Linked DNA regions of Homo sapiens: region 1 is linked to region 2. The links come from fine-mapping of genetic effects on gene expression. A gene starts in region 2. The other region holds a variant in brackets. All regions are shown on one strand. Distances are between the middles of the regions. Region 1 overlaps BST1 (bone marrow stromal cell antigen 1). Region 2 holds the start of BST1 (bone marrow stromal cell antigen 1).

What was found. PIP is the estimated chance that this variant, and not a neighbour inherited with it, causes the effect.
Region 1: its variant is fine-mapped to the expression of BST1 in whole blood (TOPMed, PIP above 0.99).

Annotation. Positions count from the first base shown.
Region 1 is chr4:15,724,925-15,740,949 of GRCh38, forward strand. It overlaps BST1 (bone marrow stromal cell antigen 1), which reads left to right. Exons shown (of 9, transcript NM_004334.3): 9 at 6,816-7,863. The coding sequence ends at 6,921. It also overlaps the pseudogene RPL10AP7. Among named protein-coding and RNA genes, the nearest start is that of BST1, 30 kb to the left of the region's middle. The variant C/T (reference allele first, on the strand shown) is at 8,559.
Region 2 is chr4:15,695,984-15,712,008 of GRCh38, forward strand. BST1 (bone marrow stromal cell antigen 1) reads left to right here and starts at 7,082. Exons shown (of 9, transcript NM_004334.3): 1 at 7,082-7,349; 2 at 9,532-9,658; 3 at 11,528-11,663; 4 at 15,824-15,906. The coding sequence starts at 7,162. RefSeq lists a silencer at 7,021-7,100.

The DNA of each region.
Region 1 (16,025 bases), 29 kb after region 2:
TTTCTCCTTTTATGCTGGCTGGTATATGGGCCCACAAGATGTGGAGGTGAGCGTCTTCAACTGGGCGTGGCAGAGTAACACAGCAAAAGGAAGCCGGGTGCCTCTGTACCATGGCATCACTCTACCAGCCCTGAAGAGTTACTGAGAGAGAAATAAACATCTGTCTTCTCTAAGCCACTGTCATTTAGACAGAAGCCAGATTTTATTTGATCCAATGTGGGTAGGTTCATATTCTCCCTTCAGAAGCAAAGAAACTCTGGCTCAGAGAAGTTTATGAAGGACTCACCCAAGACCACCCAGCTAGTGCAGGCAGAACCAGGATCTGAAGGAGTCTGAGAACTGTCAAAATTCACTCTGGCAGATGTCTTGCTCTTTGGGCTGGAAATTAGGACAACAGACCCATCATCTCCAGCATGTATTCTAGGAGCCAACATCCCAGGGTTCGGTGATGGATTTAAGTCCTCTCCTCATTCTTTAATGCTATTCGTTCCCTGTGAATTTGGCATGCATCGTTTCTGAGTCCTTTCACAGGAGGTAAAGGATAGCCTGTGAACCTGGGTCTTTCCTTTCCTCACCTGAAAATGAAGTCCACCCTCATGTCGCTGCTGCTCAAAAACCTTCAAAGTTACCTACTACCAAGTTCAGACTTCTAGTCCCATCTTCCAGGTTCATCATACTCTTTCCAGACACGTCACCCACAGCTTCTCATCTGGAATGTTTATTTCAAGGCTAGTTTTGATCCACTTCCCATAAGATATCATATGCTTTCCTGCTCATCAGCCTGTGGAAACACCGTTTTGGCAGTAGTAAGCACTCTGTTCTTACTGAGTTAGTCAGATGATCTGAAATTGTCAGTTTTCTTATCTACAAAGCCTCCATGAGGTTACCCTGATCCCTGATCTCAATATTTAAAATCATAGCCTCCATCTCACAACTGTGGCTCTTCAAAACCCTCATGTGACTGCATTTTTTTTCTTTTTTATAGTGTTTATCTTCTGACTGACCTACTTGTGAAGTGCGGTCTTTTTTTTTTTTTTTTTTTTTTTTTGAGACGAGGTCTCTCTCCTCTCTCTGTCACCCAGGCTGTAGTGCAGTGGCACAATCACGGCTCACTGCAGGTTTGACCTCCTGGGCTCACGTGATCCTCCCACCTCAGCCTCCCAAACAGCTGGGGATACAGGCACTTACCACTACGCCAGCTAACTTTTAAAGTTTTTTTTTTTTTTTTTTTGTAGAGATGAGGTCTCACTATATTGCCCATGCTGGCAAATTCATTCTTTAGCGCCTCCCACCTGTCAGAACATGAGCTCCAGGAGGTCAGGGACTTTGACCTGTTTTTTTCACTGATGATGGTATTCTAAGGACCTAAAACAGAACTTGCAACTCGGTAGACACTTAGGAATGAATGAATGGATGAATAGATGAATGAACGAATGAATGGTTGGATTCTACCCTGGAAAGGCATAGATTTAAGAAGAACGATGTTCAAAGGTGCTGGGCAGCCAGAAGGAATGACAAATGCTCTACAACACCTTCAGAGAAGTGCCCAGAGGCTGCATATGCATAAGGTCTACATTTTGATTGCAAGAAAAAGAATCCTTGTGTGGCTCACTTATGTGGAAAAGGGGGAATAAAGTTGTTGCAAAGATTAGTGGTATAGACTTTCTAAGGAGCCTGGAACCTCATAAGTCTTGGATAGGGAAGTGTCTGTGGTGTTAGAATTACTTAGGTTTGTATGGTTTTACTCTTTGTCTCATTAATCAGACTGTCAACCTATACAGAAACAGACCATGTAAAATTCCTTGTTGTAAAACCCACTGCACCCTACACCACCATTCCTGAAATGGGCAAATGGTGCCATCCTAGCACCAGTGCCTTGGGTTAGCTCCCCTGCTGCAGGAAGAATAAGGAGAACGAGGGTAGCTCTTCTCACTTTTCCTCGGTATTTTTTTTTTTTTTTTTTTGAGATGGAGTCTCGCTCTGTTGCCCAGGCTGGAGTGCAGTGGCGTGATCTCGGCTCACTGCACCCTCCGCCTCCCGGGTTCAAGCAATTCCCCTGCTTCAGCCTCCCGAGTTTTCCTCAGTATTTCTGAGCACTTTGCAGTGTCAGGCTTCCAGCTGGCACTCTGGAGTCATCATCTCATTTTACTCCAACCACATTCCTAGAAGGAAGACAGTTTGATTGTCATCAATGATGCTGAGGTTCAGAAGGATTAAGTGATCATTTAATGTTACTCAGAGGCCGAAGCAAAACGGAGATTTGTCTGTGTGTAAAGTTCTCATTCTTCCTACCACACCACACTGCCTTAAAATGTCTCTGGGTCTCACACCACAGCAGGTAAGTAAGGGGTTTGCAGTTCCTGACCTGTTCTTCCCTGTGTGTGGGCATTCTTTCAGTGACTGTTGGTAGACATTTTTGACAATTCTGGCTGATTCCTTTGAATGTCAAGGATAAAACTCTCTTTCACTCTGCCAAGTTTTTCACCAACTTTCATCACCCTGGCAGGAATTTTTCTAATCTATTTTTTAAACATTCTAGCTGTGAATAGTCATAGATAATTTACAAAAGAGAAACCACAAATAGCAAATATACAAAATTATTTAATCACTCTAATAATAATGGAAAACAAATTCAACAAGGTGTCATTTTCACCTAAACTTTCTTGGCATACATTAAAACATAGCAGAAAAATGTTTTAGAGATGTTATTCAATGCTTGATGTCACTGTAAATTGATAAAGTGCTTTGGGAAAACAATTTGACAATATGTGTCAAGAATTAGAAAAATATCACAGTCTTTGACCTAGGTCACACTTTAGGGTACTTTTGGTGCCCTATTCCAAACAAGTGATTTGAAATGCACATACAGCCTATATGCTCAAATATGTTCTCCAGAGCATTCTTTATAATACTGAAATACTGGGAACTGGACTCAAATATCCACTGACAAGTAAACAGTTACATCAAAGGGTACACTTACTGGAGGGAGTAGAATATAGCCCTTAAAGACAATGGTAGGATAATCATACAGCAAGCAGAAGACCCCATGAATAATCCAAGGGGAAAAAACCAACCTTAGCGCTTATAGGTTATAATATTGGCCAAAAATTCAGTAGACTTTTAATCTGCAGGATTGGTGATGATATGAGAAAACAGACATATAGTACTGGAATGAGGACTCAGTGTGGCACTAAGGGCCAAAGGCAAACATCAGATCTTTTAACTTAGCTGGAAGGCTCTATCCTAAATGCCCCAGGCCACAGAGACAGGACTACTCATCTCTACTTGTTTAGGAATAGTGGGGTAAAGGGCTTTTAATCTGCAAAGGTTTCAAATGAAATAAACAACTGTTGATGTAAATCCACCCATTTTATTAATAGTTTTGTGGTAAATTTAGGGACAATCTGTATGTTTTGGTATTTAATTATTGGCAATATTTTAGAGAATGTAGCATATAAGAACAGCTGTTGGATTAAACCTGTGATGCCAGTATATGGGTTACTATTAAGTAACTAATTCTTTTTCTTTTTTTTTTTTTTTTTTTGGAGACAGGTTATCGCTCTGTCACCCAGGCATGGAGTGCAGTGGTGTGATCATGGCATATTGTAACCTCAACCTCCTGGGTTCAAGTGATCCTCCTGCCTCATCCTTTCAAGTGGCTGAGACTACAGGAGCAAGCCAGCACTACTGGAAAATTTTCTTTTCCCTTCCTTCCTTCCTTTTTTTTTTTTTTTTTTTGATGGAGTCTTGCTCTGTCACCCAGGCTAGAGTTCAGTGGCTTGATCTTGGCTCATCACTGCAGCCTCCACCTCCTGGGCTCAAGTGATTCTCCTGCCTCAGCCTGCCAAGTAGCTGGGCCCACAGGTGTGAGCTACCACGCCTGGCTGATTTTTGTATTTTTAGTGGAGATGAAGTTTTACCATGTTGGCCAGGCTGGTCTCAAACTCCTGACTTCAGGTGATCCTTCTGCCTTGGCCTCCCAAAGTGCTGGGATTATAGGTGTGAACCACCATGCTCAGCCAAGTAACTGATTTTAGGCTTGGGATTTTTAGTAGGAAGTTATAAGAGAATTTTACTAAGTTTTGAACCAGTATTGGAATTTGTAAAAGAATTAAGATTAAATTTTATACATTTATTAGGTTTACTACAATCAAGTAATTGAGAAAGTTTTGCTAATTTAAAGTCATTTAAAATATTTTTTAAAAAAGATGTAATATTTTAATATTTAAGTTGAAAATAACCTGAAGCCTTGCCCAGTGGCTCATGCCTGTAACCGTAGCACTTTGGGAGTTCAGTGCGGGAGGATCACTTGAACCCAGGCATTCAAGACCAGCCTAGGCAACATGGCGAGACCCCGCCTCTACAAGCAAACAAACAAAAAATTGGCTGGGTATGTTGGTGTGCACCTATGGTCCCAGCTACTCAGGAGTCTGAGGCAGGAGGATTCTCTAAACCCGGGAAGGTCAATGCTTCAACGAGCTGTAGTCATGCCACTGCACTCCAGCCTGGGTGACAGAATGAGACCCTGTCTCAAAGAATAATAATAATAATAATAACTTAACCTGAAATAACTTGAGTTTAAAACATCACAGGAATTAAGTAAGTGTGACAAATCCTTAAGAGTTATTGTCAGAGTTCACCAGGTTTTTAAATAGAACAATGTGATTTATAAATTAAATAAAAGGGCATGGGAAAATTAGGCTTTTGAGTATATAAATGTAATAACAAGAATCAATTTTAAAAATCAAAGTAACTGCAAATAGTGCAGTTACCCCCTCAAGTATAGTCTCACATTGACAAGAAAAGGTTTTTAAGCTACAAAGTGAGAAACCAATGCACAGAACATGAACCGAGACATGTAAACCAGAAGAAAGCAAAACAGCATGTTTCTATTTGTGCATGATAATGGATGTAAGTGATAGAAATAGGTCTGAGAAAGTAAACTCCAAGCACCTAACTGTGGGTTCCTTCTAGGCAAAGGAATAGAAACTGGAAAAAGATGAAGGGAGGCTGTCATTATTAGTGTATCTAATTATGTGTTATTTTATTTTTTAAAAAAGTAAAGAAAAATGTAACCTTATGTTAATTAGTTAATTATTTGAAAGCAAAAGTAATTTTAAATTTTGAGTGAATCGAGTCTGGGACATTAACTGCATCACAGGTGCAATTGTAGAAAATGTCCGGTAGGTGGAGCACTAATACAAACCTGTGGGTCAGATTTCTTTAGCAAAAAAGAGAGGACCAGCATTCAAATGGAGTCAGGAACTTTTAAGGACAGGGCCACTAGTCCAGAGCCATGGGATATATTTCCAAGCCAACATTAGATGGTTTCATAATTTTAAAATTCATCTTTTAGTTGGTTTAAAAGAATTCAGTAATTTCTGTTTTTACAAACCCAGTGGCCAGATACTGTTTACTATGAATAGGGTCCATATTTTGGGCAGGCCCTCTGTTGATGTCTTCATGTCAGGACAGGTTTTTCTTCACCACTTAAACTCTGATCATGTAATAGCCATCAGTAGGAAACCTGGCTAACACTGTGTTCCATCCGTACAATAAGAATTCATCCACAAGGAAGAATGAGTTAACTCCCTGTGTACCAATATGGAAGCATGTTCAAAATATGATGTTAGGTGAAGAACGCACGTTGCAGATTCCATTTGTGCTTAGATAAAAGGATATCTAAAGACATCTAAGGATAATTTGCAGGGCAGCAGCAGGTCCTGTTGTCTAGAGAAGCTTTTTGCTCAGGAAAGAATGTCTTGAGATGGTATTTCAATGACGTGTGTGCTCAGGATTGCAGAAATAGGAATTAGTTATATTGAGCAGGTTCAGCATGCATGTGTTCATTGCATTCCTGGAAAGAGAACTCAAACTATCAAAGTTGGTTTTCTATGGAAAGTGCAAATGGGGAGACTAAGAGACTTTTACTTTCCACTTTATAACTTCCTATATACTATGTACATTTCTCCACAGTGTGCACAATTTGCTTTTTTTTTTTTTATACTGGTAGCAGTAGAATTTATTCAAATGTGCCTTAATATAGGCACTGGGGCTTGCCTATGGTGCTCTCGATATATAAGGCCCGGACATTCTGCCAGTTTTTCTGCCAGTTTTTCTTGAGCAATGTCACCAAGAAGTTGACAGGCAGGTGACTGTTACACACAAGCTCATTGTCTGTCCTTTTCACGTGGCCAACAGCCACAGCCAGACATAACACCTTCTTCATGTGGAAATTGATTACGGACTTCATCTCATCCACTTTGGCCACCATGTTTTCCTTGTGTGTGAGCAGGGAGGGGCAATTTCCTGCCTTATTTAGGACTGGGCCGAGGATTCGTGGGATCTGCTTGATCAGAGACTCTGAGGCCAAAAATGCATCATACTCTTGGCCAGTTTCTTGACCAGTTTCTTATTCTTGTTGAGTTTTTTCAGTACCTCGTTTTCCATGTGGTGGAAATCCACAGGCTTGGCCTTGTCACGGTGCTGCTGGTTACCCAGGACACACATGGAGAACTTGGGGCAGGGAGTGGACTTAAGCCTGACGGTGCCCGAGAAGCGCTTGTCCTTCTGGGGAGTCATAGTTCTTGAAGCTGATCTGCAACTCCACCATCTCCAGAAACTTGGGGTGCTTGCGCTGGTTTCGGTGCAGGACTTCGCGCACCGCCTCCTACGGGGTGTCACGGGAGACTTTGCTGCTCATGGCTTCTCGCTCCGCGCTAACCAGAAAAGAGACTAATACTGCACATATATTTTTGAGCGTAGATTCCATACACCAATACTGACACTTTCTCTATTTCCTTGTTAATTTGCAGGGCAGCAGCCGCTACTCAAAGAAAAGCCCCAAGTCTTTATACAGAACAAAGGGCGGGTCTTATCATTCCCCTCTTTCTGGTGCTGGCTTCCAGGACTCAACTGTAACTGGAAACTGTGTTGCTCTAACCCTCCTCCAGCCCTGCAGCCTCCCCTTGCAGTCATCATTCGTGTTCTGTGTATACCAAATGATTCTGTTATCTAAAGAAGCTTTTTGCTGGGAAAACGATGTCCTGAAAATGGTATTTCAATGAGGCATATGTTCAGGATTTCAGAAACAAGAAGTTAGTTCTATTTAGCAGGTTAAAAAATGCTGCATTAGAATTAAAGCAAGTTATTTTCTTATTTGTATAATGACACAAAGCATTGGGAGTCAGACTGCTTGTATATTATCAAACATTTTAAGAGAATTCTAATAAAGCTGTATTTTACATCATCTATATTTTCCTATATCTCCAGCAGCACGGACACTGCATGCTTGTTGATTGCTTAAGACATATGTATACTATATAAATGTATGCATATATGGTCTGCAAAGTTTTCATTTTTCATTTATTTGGTATAAAGATGTTCAGTTAATGGTTCCTTTTTGTTTTGAGAGACAGAGTTTCGCTCCTTTGCCCAGGCTGGAGTGAGGTGGGGAGATCTCAGCTCACTGCAACCTCTGCTTCCAGGATTCAAGCGATTCTCCTGCCTCAGCCTCCCAAGTAGCTGGGATTGCAGGTGCCTGCCACCATGTCCAGCTAATTTTTGTATTTTTAGTAGAGATGGGGTTTCACCATGTTGGCCAGGCTAGTCTCGAATTCCTGACCTCAGGTGATCCACCCACCTCAGCCTCCCAAAGTGCTAGGATTACAGGCGTGAGCCACCACATCCAGCCATAATAGTTACTTATAATGAGGGAAAAACCCAAAATATCCAGTAATATTTACATATTTACTGAAACTGTTTGGAACTTGTATTAGTTTGTTCTTGCATTGCTATAAAGAACTGCCCGAGACTGGGTAATTTACAAAAATAAAAATAAAAAAGAGGTTTAATTGACTCACAGTTCTGTGTCCAGAATTGTGACAAAATTGTGACAACCTCTGGGTTTTTGGTCTTGCTGACTTCAAGAATGAAGCCATGGACTTTTGCAGTGAGTGTTACAGCTCTTAAAGATGGTGTGTTCAGAGTTTGTTCCTTCAGATGTGTCTGGAGTTTCTTCCTTCTGGTGGGTTCGTGGTCTCGCTGACTTCAAGAATGAAGCTGCGGACCTTCGCGGCAAGTGTTACAGCTATTAAAGGTAGTGCGGACCCAAAGAGTGAGCAGCAGCAAGATTTATTGTGAAGAGCGAAAAAACAAAGCTTCCACAATGTGGAAGGGGACCCAAGCTGGTTGCCACTGCTGGCTCGGTGGCCAGCTTTTATTCCCTTATTTGGTCCCACCCACATCCTGCTGATTGGTCCATTTTACAGAGCGCTGATTGGTCCATTTTACAGAGTGCTGATTGATGCATTTACAATCCTTTAGCTAGACACAGAGTGCTGATTGGTGTGTTTACTATCCTTTAGCCGGACACAGAGTGCTGACTGGTGTGTTTTTACAGAGTGCTGACTGGTGCATTTACAATCCTTTAGCTAGACACAGAGTGCTGATTGGTGCGTTTACAATCCTTTAGCTGGACACAGAGTGCTGACTGGTGTGTTTTTACAGAGTGCTGACTGGTGCATTTACAATCCTTTAGCTAGACACAGAGTGCTGAT[C/T]GGTGCATTTACAATCCTTTAGCTAGACAGAAAAGCTCTCCAAGTCCCCTCTCGACCTAGGAAGTCCAGCTGGCTTCACCTCTCTGTTCCACAGGCTTACAGGAAGCATGGCTGGGGAGGCCTCAGGAAACTTACGATCATCATGGAAGGCAAAAGGGAAGCAGTCATGTCTTACATGGCCAGAGAAGGAGGAAGGGAGTGAAGGGGGAGGTGCTACATGCTTTCAAACCACCAGATCTCGTGAGAACTCTGTCATGAGACAGCACTAGGTGATGGTGCTAAACCATCCGAAACCACCTCCGTGATCCAATCACCTCCCACCAGACCCCACCTTCAACACTGGGGATCACAATTCAATATGAAATTTAGGTGGGGATACAGAGCCAAACCATATCAGAACTATTTACATGGGTTTTAGAATATTTGTAGAATGGAGTATCATTCAACAAGTAAAAGCCATGTTTACCAATTCACATGTCCTTCAGATGGTGAAGGAATAAACTAACTGGTAAATCTACACCATGGAATACTACTCAGCAATAAAGGTAACTACCTTGATATATGCAGCAATATGGATGAAACCCAAATGTGAGAGCTGCCGCACCAAAAGGCCACCAACTGTATGATTCTATTTATATGACATCCTCGAGAAGGCAGAACTATAGTAGCGGAGAGCAGACCAGTGATTGTGGGGGTTGAGAATGATCAGGACTAGAAGGAGGCGCTGACTGCAAAGTGACACTGAGAAAAATTTTGGGAGCGATGGAGCTGCTCTGTGTCTTGATTGTGGTGGTGATTGCATGAATCCAAGTGTTCGTCAACACTCATGGCCCTGTACATGAAAAAGAGTAAATTTTATTTTATGTAAACCAAAAAGAAATGTTTTCAAAGAACATTTAATCACATAGGAAAATGTGTAAGAGATAAAATATAAAACTTAATTATATGATGAAAATGTCTAAAGTATGATACAAATTTAATATATTAAAATATAATATATATACGGGAAATCATTCTCAAAATTGTCTCCTCCACCAGTCGACTAAACTTAGGGGTTTACATAGCAGGAAGGAAATGTAACTATATGTGAGAAAACAGGAATGGGGGAGGGGTAAGGAAGAGAAGCTGCTAAACAGGAGTCATGATGGATGAAGGGTCTGGCATCTAATTGTGTGGATGTGGTGGTCTGGTGAGTTTCGGTTCCTTGATACTAACTGGTTGCCTAAGGGTCAGTTTCCTGAAGAAGGAATTCAGATAAGACAAATGTAAGTTTCAATCTTAGATGAGAGGGTCAATTTTCATGTTTATCCAAAAAACAGTAGACATCACTTCTCTGGGACAGCTGGGCTGGTTTCAGTCGGACACTGCCACAGGGAGCAGGCAGGAGCGGGAACCAGGCCACGCTCAGAAGGGTTAAGGAAAGAGACTTTGGGAAGTGAGACTGCAGAGGAATGAAATCCATGAAAACCTGGCATGGTAGAATGTTCATTTGGTGTAGACACTGGTGTGTATTGTAAAAGCGGTATTAGCTTCTTACAGAAGGTGTGCTCAGCTGGGCTCCTCTAACCAAGTTGCTTGGTGCTCTACCCAGACGTGCTCTCTACTCTCTCCCTCCTCAGGGTCTTTGAACATGTTGGTCTCTCTGTGTTGATTTTCCTTCCTGCCCTGTCTCCCATCTGGCAGACTCTAAGACATACCTTAAGCATCACCTCCTCCCTGGATCCTTCTGTTGACCTCTCTCCCTGCAAAAAAGCAAAGAATTCCCTAACAGGGCCCATCTTCATGGTGTCAGCATTGTTTGGGTCCTTGCCTAACTTCACCCTGGGACTGTGGCTTCTTTGCAGACTCACTCATCTTTGCAGCCCTAGCCTAGCCCTGCTTGGATGAAGTAGACCTTCCACGTGTGAATGAACTAAGTTTAATAGAGGAAAACAGAGGGTGGGGGATTCTTTAGCTTTCTTTTGTTGGAGGAGGCCAGGGAGGGTACAAGGGAAGCTTAATAACAAGGTGTGGCATGCTTTTCTGTATTTATGGCATACTTTCATAAAACACTTGAAGTGTGTGATATTGCTAGGGTGTGTGAGGGGAGCCGTGAGGGAAGATGACAAGCAGCATAAGACTTTTGGGTACTTAGAGAAAGAGAAAAGGACCCAACCAACCAACTTCCAATTCATAATTCATGGTTTGTCTCAGGACCGTCTGGCTCCTTAGGCCAATCCCATGGGAGCCCCAGCCAAGGGGCGTCTCTTAGACCAAGCTTGGAAAACACAGTGTCTGCTGCCTTCATGTTGCCTGGGTTACCAGGCGACTTAGCCACTCACAGCACAGTGACCTGCGACTCAATTAGAGAAATGCCATTTTGAGTTCCATAAGAAAAATAAGGCTTTATTTTTAAAAACTAAACATAACTTCACTTTTTTCCCGAATATAAGAGTAATAATGGCTCTTTACTTGAAAAAAATCTACACAATACAGAAAAATTAGGAAGAAGGCAAATCTCATCTGTCATACTGCACGCAGAGTAGCAGACATTTTTCTATGTGTTTTTATGCACATATTTATATTTATAGACCCAAGAGGCTATGTGGGACATTAGGAGTGCGACCCAGAGCAGAACCATACAACCGCCGGTTCTAGCCTTTGTACAAGGTAAATCATGGGTTTCAAACATATCATTGCCTCCTGACTGATCTCTCTGCTTCTGCTTGGTTTCTCCTTCAGCCTAACTTCCACAATGCTGCCAGAGCAATGTCCTACGCTAGGGTCCTGAGTGCATCGTCCTCTTGCTCAAAATCAGCAATGGTTTCCTACCCTTGGCAAGACAAATTTCAAATTTTAAAATCTGCTCTTCAAGAAGCCGGGCGCAGTGGCTCCTGCCTATAATTCCAGCACTTTGTGAGGCCAAGGTGGGCAGATCACTTGAGGTCAGGAGCCCTGGACAACATGGTGAAACCCTGTATGTACTAAAAATACAAAAATTAGCTGGGCGTGGTGGCACGTGCCTGTAATCCCAGGTACTCTGAAGGTTGAGGCAGGAGAACTGCTTGAACCAAGGACACAGAGGTTGCAGTGAGCCTAGATTGCTCCACTGCACTCCAGCCTGGGTGATAGAGTGAGACTCTGTCTCCAAAAAAAAAAAAAAATCTGCGATTCAAGATCTTTCCATTTGCCCCTAAACTGCCTTACTAGGTCTGTGTCCCAGGAGACCCCACTGCACTCTCCATGAACCTTCTCTCAGTTCCGTATTCTCAACATAAGCCTTTGGATCTGGTACCTTTGCTCACCTCCTCCTCGAAGCCTTACTTAGTTCCAGATCCATTTGTTTTTATGTCTCTCTCTCTTGAGGACAGCAACTTTACCTCTTTGTCTTTGTGTCTGTCATAATGCTTTACCCTGACCAGCCATGACCTAGTCAGCATTTGATCAGATTGGGTGAGAACCTTGGGTTTGGGGAATCAAGACAAAGGAAATGGGGAGGCAGCCTAACATTGTGGCCAAGAGCATGGACTCTGGCACCTAACAGGTTGGCCCACATCCTACCTTCAGCACTTGCTCGCTGTGTAGCCTTGGGCAACTCACTTACCTTACCTGAGCTGCATCACCGTGTGTGTAAGTAGGGATTATAAGTACTCATAATTCAATGAGCGAATGTGCATAAAGAACCCAGAACAGTGCCAGGAGTATAGTAGATCAGCCCTGTATAAGTGTTATTTGCTAGTGTTATTGTTACTACTACTAGAGTTGTTTGATAGCTGTCTAAACACCATCTGCAATACAGCACTCTCTGCAGATCAGAAGTTACTGTGCACTGGGCACTGTGTGAAGTATTTTCATAAATGGCCCCTTTCAATCCTCACTCGACCCCATAGGATCAATTCTCTTATTATCCTATTTTACAGATGAGAAAACATAGACATAGAAAGCTTTTCTTACTTGGCCAAGGTCACCTCTCTTGGCCTCGGTTCCTCCATGGTCTGGGCAGCAAGGGGGCAGCAGGGAGCCCTGGCAAAAGCAGCTAAGAAAACCAGCCTCGTGTGTCTTCAACAAACAGGTCCCAGCACCAGCTCCATGCCTGGCACACTTAATGGGTACTTAATGCTCTTCTACCAAGTGAATGAACAATGCTAAGCATTTGACCAAAAGAGAAATGCACATGGAAGACCCCTGAGCACAAGGACTGGGTGGGCACATGAAGAACTGAGTTCTCTTTCCTCTCCTGTCGTAGGTACCAGGTACCTTACACTTGGCTGTATTCCCTCTAGCACGATAGACTTGGTAACAAGGTACTTTCTGAACCTGAACAGGAAACTGTGGGAACCATGATGGGGAAGATACTGACTGTCAGAGAGTCCAAAGATGTAAATGCCTTCCACTCCCACAGCAAGGAAGCCGAAATCTCCAGAGGCTCTGGCAAGAGTTGAGTCAATTGCATGCCTGCCTAGTCCAGCTCCGTCCACATGAATGCTCTCCACAAGCTTCAGAGGAAACAGGATAAAATGGACTCCCAAATATTTAGGGTGGTGAAAATACTCTGCATGATACTAGAATTGTGGATACAGGTGATTATATATGTGTCCAAACCTACAGAAGGTACAACACCAAGGGTGAACCCTCAGGTAAACTACAGAGGCTGGGTGACCATGATGTTTCAATGTCGGTTCATTAGTTGTGACAAATGCACCACTCCACCACTCTGGTGGGGATGCTGCCAGTGGGGGAGGCTATGTATGTGTGGGGACAGAGCGTATGTGGGAAGCTCTGTACTTTCTGCTCAAATTTGCTGTGAACCTAAAACTGCTCTAAACATTAAAGCCTATTCAAAAAAATGAAAGCCTAATTTGAAAAGGAATTTCAGACACTTGGGAAAAAGAATAATGACGTCTATAAGTCATTCTTTGATAAGAGAGTCGGTCAGTCTGGTGTGTCTAGTAAGGTAGCAGAGGGACATTCACAAAGACCGGAGAATACAAAGATGTTAAACAGGGTGAGGAGTCTATGATGTTGGTCAGTATAAAAGGAGAAAAAGATCCTAAAAACATTCCTAAATATTGTTTGATTTAAAAATATATGTTGGAAGGCAAGAGAGTTTGATAAAAAAATAAAAATAAAAATAAAAAACCTTGATGGGAAGTGGGAATGACCACACGTTAGCCAGCTGATAGCTTACCTGTTTGAAGTTCAGCTTCCACACGATTGTTACAGACGGAACTGTGTTCCCTCAAATTCATAGTTCGTTATGGCCACCCTGGTAAGCTAACACAACAATGAAAATTTCCAAAGTAAAGACTAGAAGCAGGCATGTGCCAAGTGAACACTAGCTTTTTTTATTTCTCCTGCTGTGAAAATTGAGGTTTGCCAAAGGTGCCAAATGAACATGGCTGATTGAGAAGTAATCCCAGTTCCACTAACCTGAGAGACAGCCCAGGCAAGCGGACCTAGCTCCTAATGCTCATTTCCATTTCAGTCTTTCTGAAGTTTCCCAGGGTGAGAAAGTGGAACTCAGGACAATGAATCATCATTGGAGACTCTGCAGTTGCTAGAACTTAATTCACAGGCATTTGAAACCCAGAACTCAGCCTTACTCTTCTCAGGAGACTTTTGGCACCAAAGAGAAGGGCAAATTGAAAGCCCATGCTGGAGAACAGGGCACAGCTATTGCTGAGACTGGGAGCTTGTTTTTAAAGACCTGGCAAGGGTTTCAAACACCCACATGCATAACCAATGAAGCAGGTTGGAAAATCTGAACTATGCTAATTTCACCATAATTACTCATTACTTGAAGTCTTATGTATTTGTGTTTTCTTGGTAGTCTCTTTAAAACATGTTTCAATATGAAACGTATATGTATTAAATCACTCCGCTTAGAATTTTAGGAATATAGTTTTGTTTTTCCCCCTAAAAGATGTAGAATGCAGCAGGTTCTCTAAAGCACATGTATTCTTTGTTACGTGATTTGGTTCTTTGGAACTTCTTTTATCATGTAGCTATTAAAGGGTAGCTGTCAGAATTACCCAAACTCTTCACTGAAATGACTTACTTATTTGAGAAAAATGCATGTTAAGAAGCCAAACCGTGTGTGTGTGTGTGTGTGTGTGTGTGTGTGTGTGTGTGTATTTCTCCCCTGCACAAAAGTAGAAGGGTTTTCATTTGACTTGTGCCAGCTGCACCTTCATGACTTTGCTATAGGACATGTGACACAGTAACTCTAAGATGGTGCTTGTAAAATTTTAAAATAGTTAACATACAGTGACAAGCTCTCAGGGGAACACATTAAACTCGATTAAATTTTGTAGGGTAAAAAGATGTGTACAGAAATATAATCAGAGTGAAGTCATTGTTCACCATTGCTGCTAGTAATAAAATTTGGTGGTAGGAGGGGGAAGGAGAAAGGGAGGGAGGGAAGTCGGTGAGAGAGAGAAAAGGAGAGGGAGACATTGACAGAGAGAGAGACAGACAGACAGAGAAACAGAGAGAGACAGAGAAAGAGAGGGAAGAAGGGAGAGAGAGAGAGATAAGGATAGAGAGAGACAGGGAGAGAGTGTATCTCCTGATCCTCACTGGCTGATAACTAAATTAGTTGGGGGCAGGGGGGACTGAATCTCGTTCTGTCACCGAGGCTGGAGTGCAGTGGCACCGTCTCGTCTCACTGCAACGTCTGCCTCCCAGGTTCAAGTGATTCTCATGCCTCGGCCTCCCTAGCAGCTGGGACTACAGGCACACGCCACTATGCCTGGCTAATTTTTTGTATTCTTTTTGCTAGAGACGGGGTTTTGCCATGTTGACCAGGCTGGTCTCAAACTTCTAACCACAGTGATCTGCCCGCCTTGGGTTCCCAAAGTGCTAGGATTATAGGCATGAGCCACCATGTCGGGCCTAAATTAGTAGTTATTATCTACTTTCATTTGTGGGATGAAGATGAAACAGAGTCCTTTGGGATTGTGCACTGGGGGAAACCTAACATAGTCTAGTATCGGGAGAGGAGGCTTTCCAGAGAAAGTCTTCCTTAAGTTGAACCTGAAAAAACGAGAGCTATTAGCCAGATGAGAGGTGAAGGTGTGAGGGGGTGGATTGGAAATATTTTCAGGTAGGGAGACTAATCTATACAAAGGTTTATGTTCTCAACTACTGAGTTTGTCTTCAGCATTTGCACCTTATTTAACAAATTTATTAATTTGTTAAATTATAACAAATATTTGACAGCAGAGCTGAGGATATTAAAATAAAATGTAATTTTATTTCTTATATGTTGGTGAAGAAGGAGCAGCAACAGAGGCTGGAGCATTATTTACAAGCCAAACTATCCGTCTGGAGATTCCCAGTGCAGCAACTGGGACGGGGACTACTGAATCCCTCAGATTTTAGGCCATAGGCCAATGAACATTTTCTGTAAAAGGTGAAGTAATACTTTTAGCTTTGCTGGCCATGCAACCTCTGTCGCAACTACTCAACTCCGTGGTTCGTGAGGGG
Region 2 (16,025 bases):
AACCAACACCCGACATTCCTAGTGGGTGGGGGAAGAGCCCTCTCCTGCTGCACTCATGCCTGTCTAACTACATGTAACACACAGAACTTTTTCTTTTTTTTTTTTAAGCTCATCAGCTAATGCTAGTGCTTTTTATGTGTGGCTGAAGTTAGTGTTAGTCTTATGTTAGTGTTAGTGTTTTTTATGTGTGGGTTATTCCAATGTGGCCCAGGGAAGCCACAAGATTGGACAACCCTGTTTTTTACATACATGCCTTTGTCAGATACATGTATTGCAAGTACATCCCAATTTGTGGATTGCTCATTTTCTTAGTGGTGTTTTTTGAAGAGCAGAATTTCTTAGCTTTGATGAATGTCAATATATAAATTTGGTTTTTGGCTTTTGGTACGTAGACCCAAAATAAAATAGATATAAATATCCCCAAGAGCATAAATAATAGCAACATGTAGTAAAATAATTAAGAAGTTATGTATTTTGGATGTTTATTACCTTTGCTTTTATTTATTTTTTTGAGACGGAATCTGGCTTTGTAGCCCAGGCTGAGATTGCAGTGGCGCAATCTCAGCTCACTGCAAGCTCCACCTCCCAGGTTCACACCATTCTCCTGTCTCAGCCTTCCAAGTAGCTGGGACCAAAGGCACCCGCCACCACGCCCAGCTAATGTTTTGTATTTTTAGTAGAGATGGGGTTTCACCATGTTAGCTAGGATGGTCTCGAACTCCTGACCTCATGATCCACCCGCCTCGGCCTCCCAAAGTGCTGGGATTACAGGCGTGAGCCACTGTGCCCGGCCTGCTTTTAATATAATTTATTTTATTGTAAGTTTATATAATTTAATTTTTAATATGACTGTGTTTAACAAATGGCTCCCAGATTTTTGATACATTTTTGAAAATATACCTGTCAAATATTGTCAGCCGGTTTCAGTGCATGACTGCCTGTGGTATCATTTAACATGTCCCTCTATCCTCTATATTTCCTGAAAACTGTAGTTAAATCTGAAAGTTTGCTAGATTCAGATTAGATAGATAGATAGATAGACAGACAGATGCATGGATACTTCAGAAGTGGTGCTGTGTATTTCCTGTTGCCTCACACATCAAGATAAAGTCATGTTTTGAGGGTTTGTGAGGTATGAAAGACTTCTTCCCTCAAAACAAACTCATCCCCCATGACAATGAATAAGATGAATATAAACAAAATGAAAAAGGAGTAAACCATGAGGGAAAAGAGAAAAGAAGAGGAGTTGTCAGGAACAGAATTTGGGATGGTGGAAAGAAAATGAGGAAGGGGTAACAATTTAGTTGGCCAGTGAAGGCTGAAACCTCAGTTGGCTAGTGGGGAAAGAGAATGTAAGCTGTGAAGAAAGTTGTTTGATGTCATGAACCCTCAAAAGGAAGAGGAATTGGAAGAAAGGTCTGTCACTAACATGAAAGTGGGAGTGGATGTAGGGCTGGAAGTCAAAAAAGTAGTTGGAAGTCCAAGAATGCCCTCCCTAATCCTGTGCAGCAACATATTTCCTGAAGAGTAGACCAAAGATTCTAGGTTGTGGGGTACCAGGCATCAGTGAGGCCAGAGCTTCTACTAAAAATGTGGTGAGAGAGGAGGGATAAGTGAAAATCTTTATACTGAATAGTGAGATTCTCCCAGCCACCTTCCCCCACTCAGCTCCACATTGCTATCATCCAGGCATATATCCTTCCAGGTAGAAAATAGGAATATTAGGCCAGGCACAGTGGCTCACGCCTGTAATCCCAGCACTTTGGGAGGCTGAGGCGGGTGGATCACGAGATCGGGAGATCAAGACCATCCTGGCTAACATGGTGAATCCCCGTCTCTACTAAAAATACAAAAAAAATTAGCCAGGTGTGGTGGTGGGCGCCTGTAGTCCCAGCTACTTGGGAGGCTGAGGCGGGAGAATGGCATGAATCCAGGAGGCAGGGCTTGCAGTGAGCCGAGATCACGCCACTACACTCCAGCCTGGGCAACAGAGCGAGACTCTGTCTCAAAAAAAAAAAAAAAAAAAAAAAAAGGAATATTACTCTCTGGAAAAACGGACTGTCCAAGAGAAAATGACAGGTATCTCTTAGTGATAAAGTGCAGTATGTTCATCCTACAGGGCAGCCCACCCTTTGACAAACTCTGACCATTTGCCTTGAGCCTGCTTCTAATTAGTGCCTGATATGGTATGGCTGCGTCCCCAACCAAATCTCATCTTGAATTGTAGTTCCCACAATTCCCTCATGTCATATGAGGGACTCGGTGGGAGGTAATTGAATCATGGGGGTGGGTCTTTCCCATTCTCATAATAGTGAATAAGTTTCACAAGATCTGATGGTTTTATAAAGAGGAGTTCCCCTGCACAAGCTGTCTCTTGCCTACTGCCATGTAAGACGTGCCTGTTGCCTTCTGCCAAATTACCCAGTCTCAGGTATGTCTTTATCTGCAGTGCGACAATGAACTAATACTGTTCCTTATGTTTTTCTGTGTTTGTAAAAATAATCAGCCAAAGGTCATCAGTTTATTTGAGGGAAACTTCTCACATTAAAGCCAGTCACCAAAATGGAAATAAGGCACTCAAAGGAAACAGACATTGGCAGAAGAAAATTTAAAAGAAAAATGAAAAACCTACATCTGTAATAAAAGCCTCAGAAATATTCACAAAACAGCAAGAGAAGATTATAAAAAGCAAAAAGACCTGAACGTGTAGAACACAACTGTATATATAAGTATATATATATATATATATATATATATATATATATAGTATAAATTTAAAAAAGCAACAGAGAAGTTGGAAGATAATGATAAATTTATATTCAAGAAAGTATAAGAAGACAAAGAAAAAAGGTGAAAATATAGAAAATTAAAGACTAGGAAGTCTAACAAGGAAATCATTCCTATATGAGTAACAGGAATTTCAGAAAGAGAAAACAGAATTTGGAGGAGGGGAAATTACCAAAAAATTGAGAAAATATCTCAGTATTTAAAGACATGAGTTTGTAGGTTAAAAGGGCTCATGGATTGTCCAGTACAATGAAAAACAACTACTTTTGCCCAACTTCATCTCTGAAATTTCATACTCCTAAGAATAGAAGGAAATTCTGAAAATTTCCAGATAGAAAAAAAACAGGCCAAAGAATAAAAAACAAAACAAACAACAACAAAAAAGGTCAAATAAACAGGAATAGGAAAATGGGTTCAGATTTCTCAACAGCAACACAGAAAACAATGGAACACAGTCTTCAAAATTTTGAAGGGAAATGCTTTCCAATGCAAAAATGTACCCAACCAAATTCTCAATCAAGTGTGAGGTTAGAATAATGACACTTTGAATTCTTATGCAAAAATCTCAGACATCCAATCAAATTCTCAATTAAGTGTGAAGGTAGAATAATGACATTTTGAATTCTTATGCAAAAAATCTCAGAAAGTTTAGTCCCTGTGTATCTTCTCAAGAAGCTATTGGAAGATGTGCTCCATAAAACAAGAAAGAGGAGGATGTGAGATCTAGTTGTATTAGTTCGTTTTCATGCTGCTCATAAAGACACACCTGAAACTGGGAACAGAAAGAGGGTTAATTGGACTTACAGTTCTGCATGGCTGGGGAGGCCTCAGAATCATGGCATGAGGTGAAAGGCACTTCTTACATGGCAGCGGCAAGAGAAAAATGAGGAAGAAGCAAAAGTGGAAACACCTGATAAACCCATCAGATCTTGTGAGACTTATTCACTATCACCAGAATACCAGAATAGCATGGGAAAGACCGGCCCCCATGATTCAATTACTCCCACCCTGCCTCCCCACCCCCACCCCAACCTAGCTCTCTCCCACAACACGTGGGAATTCTGGGAGATACAATTCAAGTTGAGATTTGGGTGGGGACACAGCCAAACCATATCATTCCACCCCGGCCCCTCCAAATCTCACATCCTCACATTTCAAAACCAATCATGCCTTCTCAACAGACCCTCAAAGTCTTAACTTCAACATTAGCCCAAAAGTCCACAGTTCAAAGTTTCATCTGAGACAAGGCAAATGCCTTCTGCCTATGAGCCTGTAATATCAAAAGCAAGCTAGTTACTTTCTAGATAATGATTACCTCCAGGGTAAACAAGAGGTTTACAACAAATAAAATGTCATAATGTCCCAAACAGAATAATGTCCCAAACAGAAACATCAAGAAATAGCATATAGGTATTGTATTAGTCTGTTCTTGCATTGCTATAGATACCTGAAACTGCTCATTTATAAGAAAAAGAGGTTGAATTGGCTCACAGTTCTGCAGGCTGTAGGAAGCATAGTGGCTTCTGCATCTGGAGAGGCTTCAGGAAGTTTCCAAATGTGGTGGAAGGCAAAGGGGGAGCAATGGGTCTTACACGGTGGCAGCAGGGAGCAAGAGAGAGGGAGGAGGTGCTACACACTTCTTTTTTTTTTTTTTTTGAGACAGAGTCTCACTCTGTCACCAGGCTGGAGTGCAGTGGTGAGATCTCAGCTCACTGCAACCTCCGCCTCCCAGGTTCAAGCGATTCTTCTGCCTCAGCCTCCCGAAGAGCTGGGACTACAGGTGCGTGCCACCACGCCCAGCTAATTTTTGTATTTTTAGTATAGATGGGGTTTCACCATGTTGGCCAGGATGGTCTCGATCCGTGATTCCCAACACACCCCCCACACCAGCCTCCCAAACTGCTGTGATTACAGGTGTGAGCCACGGCGCCCTGCCAGTGCTACACAGTTTAAAACAACCAGATCTCACTTACTATCATGAGAATAGCAACAAGGGGATGGTGCTAGACTATTCTTGAGAAACCCACACCCATGATAAAATCACCTCCCACCAGGCCCCACCTCCAACGTTGGGGATTACAATTTCACATTAGATTTGGTGGGACGAGCCATGCCAGGGATGCCCCAAAATTACTAAACTAAAGGGAAAAGTCAGGCTGGGAACTGCTCAGGGCAAACTTGCCTCCCATTCTATTCAAAGTCATTCAGCTGCTCACTGAGATATATGCATATTCTGATGGCCTTCTTTGGAAAGGCTTATCAGAAACTCAAAAGAAGGCAACCATTTGTCTCTCACCTACCTGAGACCTGGAAGCCCCCTCCGTGCTTCGAGTTGTCCCCGCCTCTCTGGACAGAACCAATGTACTTCTTACATATATTGATTGATATCTCATGTCTCCCTAAAATGTATAAAACCAAGCTGTGCCCTGACCACCTTGGGTACATGTCGTCAGGACTTCCTGAGGTTGTGTCATGGACACGTGTCCTCAACCTTGCTAAAATAAACTTTCTAAATTAATTGAGACCTGTCTCAAAATTTGCGGGTTCACACATGTTATTTAGAAATATGGAAGTAAACACAGGAACAAAACTTGAAAGAATTAAAAATGCTTTCCTCTGGAAAGTGGATTTAACTTAAGGAGGAACTGAACAGGAGAATGCGGGTTTTGGTTACAGAAAAAAAGAGATTCAAATAAAACAGTAGAGAACACCTGTTCTGTCCTCCCTTGTGTTTATCAAGTGCTTGCCAGGCACTCAAAGTTCATTGCTGTCATTATTGTAAGAATTGAGGACTTGGGCCTCCACGTGGTATTCTATTAATACTGGCTCTTTTTTTTTTTTTTTTTGAGACGGAGTCTCACTCTGTTGCCCAGACTGGAGTGCAGTGGCCCGATCTCGGCTCACTGCGAGCTCTGCCTCCTGGGTTCACGCCGTTTTCCCGCCTCAGCCTCCCGAGTAGCTGGGACAACAGGCGCCCGCCACCGCGCCTGGCTAATCTTTTGTATTTTTAGTAGAGACGGGGTTTCACCGTGTTAGCAAGGATGGTCTCGATCTCTTGACCTCGTGATCCACCCGCCTCGGCCTCCCAAAGTGCTGGGATTACAGGTGTGAGCCACCGCGCCCGGCCAATCCTGGCTCTCTTAAACTGAACATCTCCAGGATTTTGCATCTATCAGGAAGGGATATTGTGACCTCTGACAAGTTACAGTCGGCGGTAGGTATCCATGGAGAATTGGTTCCAGGAACCTCCTGGATACCAAAATCCACAGATGCTCAAGGCCCTTATATTAAATGGTGTAGTATACAGTATTTGCACATCCTCTTCTATAATTCACGTCATCTCCAGATTCCTTGTAATATCAAGTACTATGTAATTGTTACATAAGTAGTTGTTACATTGGATTATTTAGGGAATGATGACAAGGAAAAAAAAGTCCGTACATGTTCCGTACAGATGCAAGCATTCTTTTTTTCCTCAAATGTTTCTCATCCGTGGTTAGCTGAATTTGGATGATGAATCCGCAAATCTGGAGGGCCGAACATGCTTAACTTCCCTGAGTTTATCCATTGCTAAAGCGAGAGAAATTACAAACTTAGCTAGGAAGGGTGTTGCGGAAAGTAATTAATATTATACTTGCAAAGTGCTTGGCACGTTGTTGTGGTTATTATTTCCTGAAAACAAACAAACACCACTTATTGGTTGGTGTGAAAGAGGGCATCTGTCAAAGTTGTCGTCCTTTGGAGCCAGAAAAGTATTTCTTCTGATGATGACTGACCTCTCCTCACCTCTCCTTCAACCTTGCGGCTTCTTTGGGGCTCCCTCCCCGTGGACAGCGGTCAAGATTAGCCTGGGCCACAGTGCACTGGTCCTGTCCTGGGTGATGTTCCAAGCTCACTCTTTTTTAATTTTATTTATTTATTAATTTTTTTTTTAGACAGAGTCTCACTCTGTCGCCCAGGGCTGGAGTGCAGTGGTGCAATCACTGCTCGCTGCAGCCTCGATCCCCTGGGGTCAAGCCTCCTCACATCTCACCTCGCAGGTAGCTGAGACTACAGATGCGCACCACCAGGACCAGCTAAGTTTTGTATTTTTTTGTAGAGAGGAGGTTTCTCACCTGTATGTTACTCAGGTTTGTCTCGAACTCCTATACTCAAGCGATCCGCCCGTCTAGGCCTCTCAAAGTGCTGGGATTACAGGCATGAGCCGCCGCGCCCCGCCCCACGCTCAGTCTTGAAATTGTCTGGAACGGGAAACGGCAAACAGCGAGATATCCGAGCGAGAGTCCCGCCCTGCATCAGTTTGCGGAACCGCCTTGGTAGAAGGAGAGAAGGGGAGTGGAGGAAGCACGGGACTGGAGGGACCAAAGTTCCCCGATGGCGGCCCAGGGGTGCGCGGCATCGCGGCTGCTCCAGCTGCTGCTGCAGCTTCTGCTTCTACTGTTGCTGCTGGCGGCGGGCGGGGCGCGCGCGCGGTGGCGCGGGGAGGGCACCAGCGCACACTTGCGGGACATCTTCCTGGGCCGCTGCGCCGAGTACCGCGCACTGCTGAGTCCCGAGCAGCGGTGAGGCAGTCGGCCGGGTGGAAGGGGAGCCGGAAAGAGGCAACGGTGGGGAGGGCCTGGGGAGGGGAAAACTGGCGCTAAAGTTCGGGGTGAGGGGGCAATGAGAGAGGCCTTGAGGGGAGAGGTGAGTGTGGAGACAGCGATGGTCCTGAACGATGGGGGCGAGTGAGGAGGGGGCTGTGAAGTGTGTCTGCAGGTGAGGGGTGCGCTGTGCGGGGTCTAGAGATGAGTGTGTGTGTGTGCGCGCACACACACACTGTAGAGGTGAGGGGTGTGTGCGTGTGTTCTAGAGGTGAGGGGGGTGTGTGTGTGCGCGCGCTCTAGAGGTGGGAGGTGTGTGTGTGCTCTAGAGGTGGATGTGTGTGTGTGTGCTCTAGAGGTGGGGGTGTGTGTGTGTGTGTGTGCTCTAGAGGTGAGGGGTGTGTGTGTGTGTTCTAAAGGTGAGATGTGTGTGTGTGTTCTAGAGGTAAGGGGTGTGTGTGTTCCAGAGGTGAGGTGTCTGTATGTGTGTTCTAGAGGTGAGGGGTGTGTGCATGTGTGTTCTAGAGGTGAAGGGGGTGTGTGTGCGTGCGCTCTAGAGGTGAGGGGTGTGTGTATTCTAGAGGTGAGGGGTGTGTGTGTTCTAGAAGTGAGGGGTGTGTGTGTTCTGGAGGTGAGATGTGTGTGTGTGTGTTCTAGAGGTGAGGGGTGCGTGCATGTGTTCTAGAGGTGTGTGTGTATCTGTGTTCTAGAGGTGAGGGGTGTGTGTGTGTAGTCTAGAGGTGACAGGTGTGTGTGTGTGGTCTATAGGTGAGGGATGTGTGTGTGGTCTAGAGGTGAGGGATGTGTGTGTGGTCTAGAGGTGAGGGGTGTGTGTGTTCTAGAGGTGAGGGGGTGTATGTGTATTCTAGAGCTGAGGAGAGTGTGTGTTCTAGAGATGAGGTGTGTATGTGTGTTCTAGAGGTGAGGGGTGTGTGTGTGTTCTGGAGTTGAGGGGTGTGTGTTCTAGAGGTGAGATGTGTGTGTTCTAGAGATGATGGGTGTGTGTGTTCTAGAAGTGAGAGGTGTGTGTGTTCTAGAGGTAAGGGATGTGTGTGTGTGTGTGTTCTAGAGGTGAGTTGTGTGTGTGTTCTAGAGGTGAGATGTGTGTGTGTTTGTTCTAGAGGTGAGGGGTGTGTGTGTGTAGTCTAGAGGTGACAGGTGTGTGTGTGTGGTCTATAGGTGAGGGATGTGTGTGTGGTCTAGAGGTGAGGGATGTGTGTGTGGTCTAGAGGTGAGAGGTGTGTGTGAGTGTGAAGGAGGGTGGAGAGGTATCCCTCTAGAAGTGAGGGTGGGGTAGAGGTGAACTGGGTAACAGCCCATTGCCACCCAGCAGATGTTTAGTCTGAATACTCAGAACCCAGAATGTGATCTCAGGTTGGAATTCCTTGAGTCCAGTCCTTCCAGAATTCAAATTTCAGATCCCCTAAATCTGGAGGATTTCTGAAGTTTGGGTCTTTCTTGCCAGTGCTGCATTTCTTACTGATTTTTGTTCCTTCTGTGGCCCCCCTTTTCTTATGTTTGTGATGTCTTTCTTGTGCTGATCATTTTTATTGTCGCACATTTCAGGCAAATAAGAAACAGCAGAGAACCACCTGTGTTACACACCACCCAGTATGAGAAACAAAGTTACAAATGCTATGGGAAATATTTTTTGAAAACTAGCATGGACCTCAAGAGGGGCTTGCACTGGAGGGTGCACCTGCTTTGCCAGAGGTGGAAGCCTTTTGCAGCATTGGGCCTCCCTCCTAACACTACACATCCTGCTGGCTGGCCTGGCCTCACCTGGTCCCCGAGCTCCACACTGGAACTGGACTATGAGACTGGCCCCACCGTTAGGTCTAAATGAAGAGGCACCTGCTGTATAGTTGACTGAATTTGTCACCTCCTGCTCGGTGCCATTTCTGCTTGTCTCCGTGAGCCTGGGGCAAGGCTGTATTCCTTAGCTCTGAGAAATCTGTGCAGTGCCTTCAGAGAGACAATTCCAGTGTCAGATTTCTGAATCTGTCACCTAAGCCATGACAATTCGTTGTCTTTTTTGTAAGCCTACTTCTGCAGTTACTATATGAAAAATCTCTTGTAAAGCTCTTAGACAAATGGGCATACTTCACAACACATTATGATGTGCATGTGTGTGTTCTTCCCAACTTGTACTTTTGCACAGGAACAAGAACTGCACAGCCATCTGGGAAGCCTTTAAAGTGGCGCTGGACAAGGATCCCTGCTCCGTGCTGCCCTCAGACTATGACCTTTTTATTAACTTGTCCAGGCACTCTATTCCCAGAGATAAGGTAACACCACAACCATCTTGGGTAAAACTGTGTTCTCTGTCTCTACAGAAATGGATGGTGCATGGGCCAGGTTGACATTAGCTGTCCCCTGCATCCTGCAATGTCACAGAAACATCAGGCAGCACACATAATGTGTGTGCTGAGCTCTCTGTGGGAAGCTAGCTTTGTTTCTGTATTAGTCCGTTGTCACATTGCTATAAAGAAATGCCTGAGACTGGGTAATTTACAAAGAAAAGAGGTTTAACTGGTTCACAGTTCCACAGGCTGTACAGGAAGAATGGCAACATCTACTTCTGGGAGGCCTCTGGGAGCTTTTACTTCAGCAGAAGGCAAAGTGGGAGCAGGTGTCTTACATGGCACGAGCAGGACCAAGGGCAGAGGGAGGTGCCACAGGCTTGTAAACAACTGGATCTTCTGAGAACTCCCTCAGGAGAACAGCAGCAAAGGGGGAAATCCACCCCCATAATCCAATCACCTCACACCAGGCCCCACCTCCAACATAGGGGATTACAATTTTACAAGAGACACAAATCCAAATCATATCAGTTTCCAATAGTGATTGTAGATCTCCCGCTGGTTGTGGGCAGAAGAAAATTTCCTAAGTTAGCAAGTTAGTGTGAGAATCAACATGAGGACATCAGGACATGGCCATACCTGTCACACTGGGCCTCCACATCTGGCCAGTTCTAAATAACCTTCATCCTAACTGGCCCAATGGCCTGAACCTTGAGTAATTCAGAAAACTCTCAATCTCAGTATCCTCCCGGGAGACCAGTCTCTCCATTTAACGGGTCTTAAGATTATATTTATTTAGTACCAGTTTATTTAAGAAAACCACATATCTATATTCTGTATACACTCTCAGGTCTAATAAAATGAAAATAATGAGAAAATTTCCATAAAACCCTTGCTTAAAACAATACCTCAAGTTTAAGGAATGCTAGACACCATTTTTGTTTCTGTGACATAAACATTGTTAACCTGATTTTTTCCATTGTGTGTTATTTGTAAAGGCAAGTAAATGGAACTGTGAGGTTCAAAGATAGAATAGACTGAAAACATGATTTTTGAGTATATGCTGTCTTTTGAACCTTGCTGCCCTCCTGTCACTAAAAGTGGGGAAGCTGACTTTTTAACCTTCTGTTTCATAGATTCGGTGCTAGTTGATGAACTCAGTAAATACTTCCGGGGCTATTTGTTTGCCAGTCATTGGTGCTAAGGGTTAAGGATGTAACAGTGAAAAACAGCCCTCACCCTTGGGGACCTTCTAGTCTAAATATAAACTGATTGGACTACTGAGGGTCAGATGAAATAGTGACTGGGGGATTTGTGTTATTGTTATATAAAAACACTATGGTGGAAACTATAAAGTATAATATAAAAGCAATGTGTTTTTGAGGCACTTGACACTTTAGGAAGTGCTTTTTGTGACTGCTTATTATCCTGGCCACAGCTCTGGAAGAAGAGAAAGGGCTCATGCTCTGCATTTTCCAGAAGTAGAAACTGAGAAACAGGGAGATTGCATGCCTTGCTCAAGATTACATATCTAATACATGACAGAGCCAGGATTCCAGCCCAGTTCCCTTGATCATTTTTAATGTAGGGGATCTTACCACATGCACGTATATTTAGTACTAGTGAGAAAATATTCCATTAACATTTGCATGATACCCTGGGAATAAAGGGAGGAGAGATGCTAGCAGTCTTTGAATGAATAAATAAAGACAACGAAAAAGAACGTTCAGTTGTTGTGCAGCAGGTCAGAGTTGAATGAGAACTGGATTGCCCAACTTGCCTTGATGATATTGTGCCTGAGGAGTCGGTTTTGATTCTGTTTTGTATTTTGATGTTTTGTTTGTCTTTCCTTAGTCCCTGTTCTGGGAAAATAGCCACCTCCTTGTTAACAGCTTTGCAGACAACACCCGTCGTTTTATGCCCCTGAGCGATGTTCTGTATGGCAGGGTTGCAGATTTCTTGAGCTGGTGTCGACAGAAAAATGACTCTGGTAAGACTCCTGCACAAATCACAGGAGACTTAAGAACTCCTATTTACTATGCATTACCATTTGTGCTAAATGCTTTCATATGCATTTATTTCACTTGATCCTCTCCAAGTCCTCTGAGATAAGTGGCAAGAATAGTTAATAATAACAATACTAGAGAATACTTAACTTTGCAGGTGCCAGTCTAAGCACTCTCTCTCTCTCTCTCTCTCTATATATATATATATATATACACATATATATACACATATATATACATATCTATACATATCTATATCTATATATACACACATACTCATTTGATGCCCACAACAACCTCATGGGATCCTATCATAATCCCCATTTTGATAAATGAGGAAACTGAGGCACAGCAAGATTAAGAAATCTGCTCAGGGGGCATAGCTAGTAAGCAGCAGACAGTCTGACTCCAGAGCCCATTTTCTCAACTTTGCACAACTCTGCCTTACTATCCTCATTTGTCCAGAGGGGGAAGCTGAGGCTTAGGGAGGTTAAATGACTGGAAGTGGTAAGGCTGGGTCTCAGTCCTGTCCTGATGGATTCTGAAGCCTGTGCTCTGTAACACCACTCCAGGCCGCCGGCAGATATTTCGAGATCCAAGTCACAAGGAAAGTTAGAGTCACAAGAGCTGGCCTGAATGTTCTGCAAACACTCCTCATTCATCCAACTGTGGTGCTAGGAGCTGGAGACACAGCAGTCCCCATCTTCAGGGAGGTTATAGCCTCATGGGGGATATCAGCTCGAGTGATATGGGCTATAATGCAGGAAAAATGGTGTTCGAGGAGTAGCAGAGTGAGACACCAGCCTCCACCAGATCATCAGGGAAGCTTCAGAAGGGAGGCTAGCAAGGAAAGGAGGTTAGGGAGTGTTTCCATTATGAAGACTGGAGATCCTTCCTGGGTATCAGAGTTACTTCAAAAGTTAACCTAATATCAGGCCGGGCATGGTAGCTCACGCTTGTAATCCTAGCACTTTGGGAGGCCGAGGTGGGTGGATCATTTGAGGTCACGAGTTCGAGATTAGCCTGGCCAACATGAAGAAATCCAAACTCTACTAAAAATACAAAAAAATTAGCCAGGTATGGTGGTGCATGCCTGTAATCACAGCTACTCGGGAGGCTGAGGCAGGAGAATCCCTCGAACCCTGGAGAAGGAGGTTGCACTGAGGCGAGATCATACCACTGCACTCCAGCCTGGATGACAGAGTGAGACTCGGCACACACAAAAAAAAGAGTTAACCTAATATCAGTTCTGTTTATTTCTCCTCCATTCATTTGTCCATCAAACTAAAATTTATAGTGTCTACTATGTGCCAGACCCTCATCTTCTAGACAGTAGGAAAACAGCAGAGAATAAAACATGAAATTAATACCCCATGCTTACATTATAGGAGGGCAGATAAGACAATAAACAGGCAAGTGAAATATACAGACTGCCTTAAGATTATAAGGGCTATGGAGAAAATTAAAACAGGTAATAAGGACAAAAAAGATTGAGGGTGGAGGGCCAGGGAAAGGAAAGTGTTGCATTTTTACCTAGATGCCGAGGGAAAACCTCACTGATAAGCTGATATTTGAACAAGGACCTGAAGGAGATGAGAAAGAGCATTTTCTGATGGGAGAACAGCAATTGCAAAGGCCCTGAGGTGGGAGCGTGTGTGACATATTTAACAGCAAAGAGGACAGTGGGCAAAGAGGAAAGTGTGAGCTATGAGGCTAGAGGAATAAAGGAGGGCCAGGTGGCACAGGATGTTGTGAGGCCTCTGCTTTTCACTGTGAGTGAGATGGGCAGCATTGCAGGTTCCACGTCAAATGGACACAGCCATTCTTTCAATGGAGAACTTCCAGGAAGCTTTTGTTTGATGATGCTGCAGAGGGTGGGGAGAAGGAGGGGAGGAATGTGATGAAAAACACATAAAGAAAGGGAGAGCCTTCCAGAAAACCACCAGTTATTTCTTCTTCACCTCGCTGCCCTTTTCTATCTATGCCCTCCTATCAGGGCTCTTTGTTTCAGAAAGAAGTGAAGTCCAGCAGTTCAGGTCAGCTAAATAACCATATGTGTATGTCATGGAATCCTGTGGGGCCAGCAGCAATGGTGATGGGGTTTTTTATTTATTGACCCAGAAAGGGGCATGTTTTTAAGCAAAAAATAAATTTACATAACCCTGTGATTGGTATGAGGCTATTCAAATAAAAACACATATACACAATACATCTATGTAAATAAACACAGAAAAAAGTCAAGAAAATAGCAAAGCCAAACCATTGACAGCAGCTCTTTTTTATTTTATTTATTTATTTATTTATATTTTAAAATCATTATTATTTTTTGAGGCAGCGTCTCACTCTGCCACCCGGGCTGTAATGCAGTGGTGTGATCCTAGCTCATTGCAGCCTTGAACTCCTGTGCTCAAGCGATCCTCTTGCCTCAGCCTCTTAAGTAGCTGGACTACAGGCACACACCACCACACTAGGCTGTTTTTAAAATTATTTTTGTAGACACATGGTCTTGCCATGTTGCCCAGGCTGGTCTTGAACTCCTGACTTCAAATAATCCTCCTGCCTCAGCCTCCCAAAGCACTGGCATTACAGGCCACAGTACCTGGCCTTGGTGCTTTTTTTAATTTTAATTTTAATTTTATTTTTGATTTACTCAAAAAATTGTATATATTTATGGCATACAATGTGATGTTTTATACATATATACATTGTGTAATGATCAAATCAGGGTAATTAGCATATCAATCATCTTAAACATTTACTATTTCTTTGTGGTGAGACATTCAAAATCCTCTCTACTAGTTATTTTGAAATATACAATACACTATTGTTAGCTATGGCCACTCTATTGTGCATTACAGCCCCAGTACTTATTCCTCCTATGTAACTGTAATATTGTTGACCAACCTCTTCCCATCTCCCTTATCCATTCCCCTCTCCAGCCTCTGGTAGCCACTATTCTACCCCCAACTTCTATGAGATCAGCTTTTGAAGATTCCACTTTCAAGTGAGATCATGCAATATTTGTTTTCCTGTACCTGGCTTATTTCACTTGACATAATGTCCTCCAGGTTCATCCATGTTGTTGCAAATGGCTCAATAGTATTGCATTATGCATACATGCCATATTTTCTTTCTTTTTTTTTTTGAAACGGAGTCTCTGTGTGTCACCCAGGCCAGAGTGCAGTGGCACGATCTCAGCTCACTGCAGCATTCGCCCCCCAGGTTCAAGCGATTCTCCTGCCTCAGCCTCCTGAGTAGCTGGGACTACAGATGCGTGCCACCATACCCGGCTAATTTTTGTATTTTTAGTAGAGATGGGGTTTTACCATGTTGGCTAGTCTGGTCTTGAACTCCTGACCTCAGGTAATCCACCCGCCTCAGCTTCCTAAAATGCTGAGATTACAGGCGTGAGCCACTGTGCCCAGTCTATTTTATCTATTAATCAGTTGATGGACACAGATTGATTCCATATCTTGGCTATTATGAATAATGCCATTAATATCAGTTTTTGCTAGGAATATGAGGTCAACTTGTAGATTAGAAATTTTTTTTCTTTATAGAGTATATGGTAAGTACATCCCACATCCCATTGATCTGCTAGGGTCTTTAGTCTGTCCTTAAACATTGTAAAATGTAATACATTTTAACATTTTATATATTTTTCAATTGTATAAAATTTCTGTTTCTGGCTAAGCATTATCACTTTCTTAATCCTTTGTTTCCTTGCATTTACTACTAAGATAATGGCTAACAATTTAATTTTTGGAGACGGCTCTTCTCCCAATAAAGCAAAGGTTTTTGTTGTTGTTGTTTGTGGGTTTTTAAACATTGTTGAGAAATAACCCAGCTAATACACTGATGCTCAGTGGTCAGCTAGACTCACTCACTAGCCAGCTATTTAGTTCTCTGCCTTCCTCACATTTGTGATGAGCAAAATGACCAACATCTTTAGTATCATGGACAAGGTGGTCCCTCACCAGGCTCCTTGTGGATTGAGTGGGAAGAACTGTGGATGTTAAACTTGTACACATTGTACAGAATGGAAGCTAAGTATACATCATGGAACTGGGATATATTGTAAGTTAATTCTTCTCTGAGATAGATAATCTTTGGAATAAAATGTGTTTGTCTACTTACCCCTTAGGACTCGATTACCAATCCTGCCCTACATCAGAAGACTGTGAAAATAATCCTGTGGATTCCTTTTGGAAAAGGGCATCCATCCAGGTAATGCTGGGATGATATCTGAGTGGTTGAGCATGTGTGGGACCCATAGAGATGGAACATAGTCATTCAGAGTCTGGGCCCCAGGTCATCACTCAACTTCTCTGAGCCTCACTTTCCAC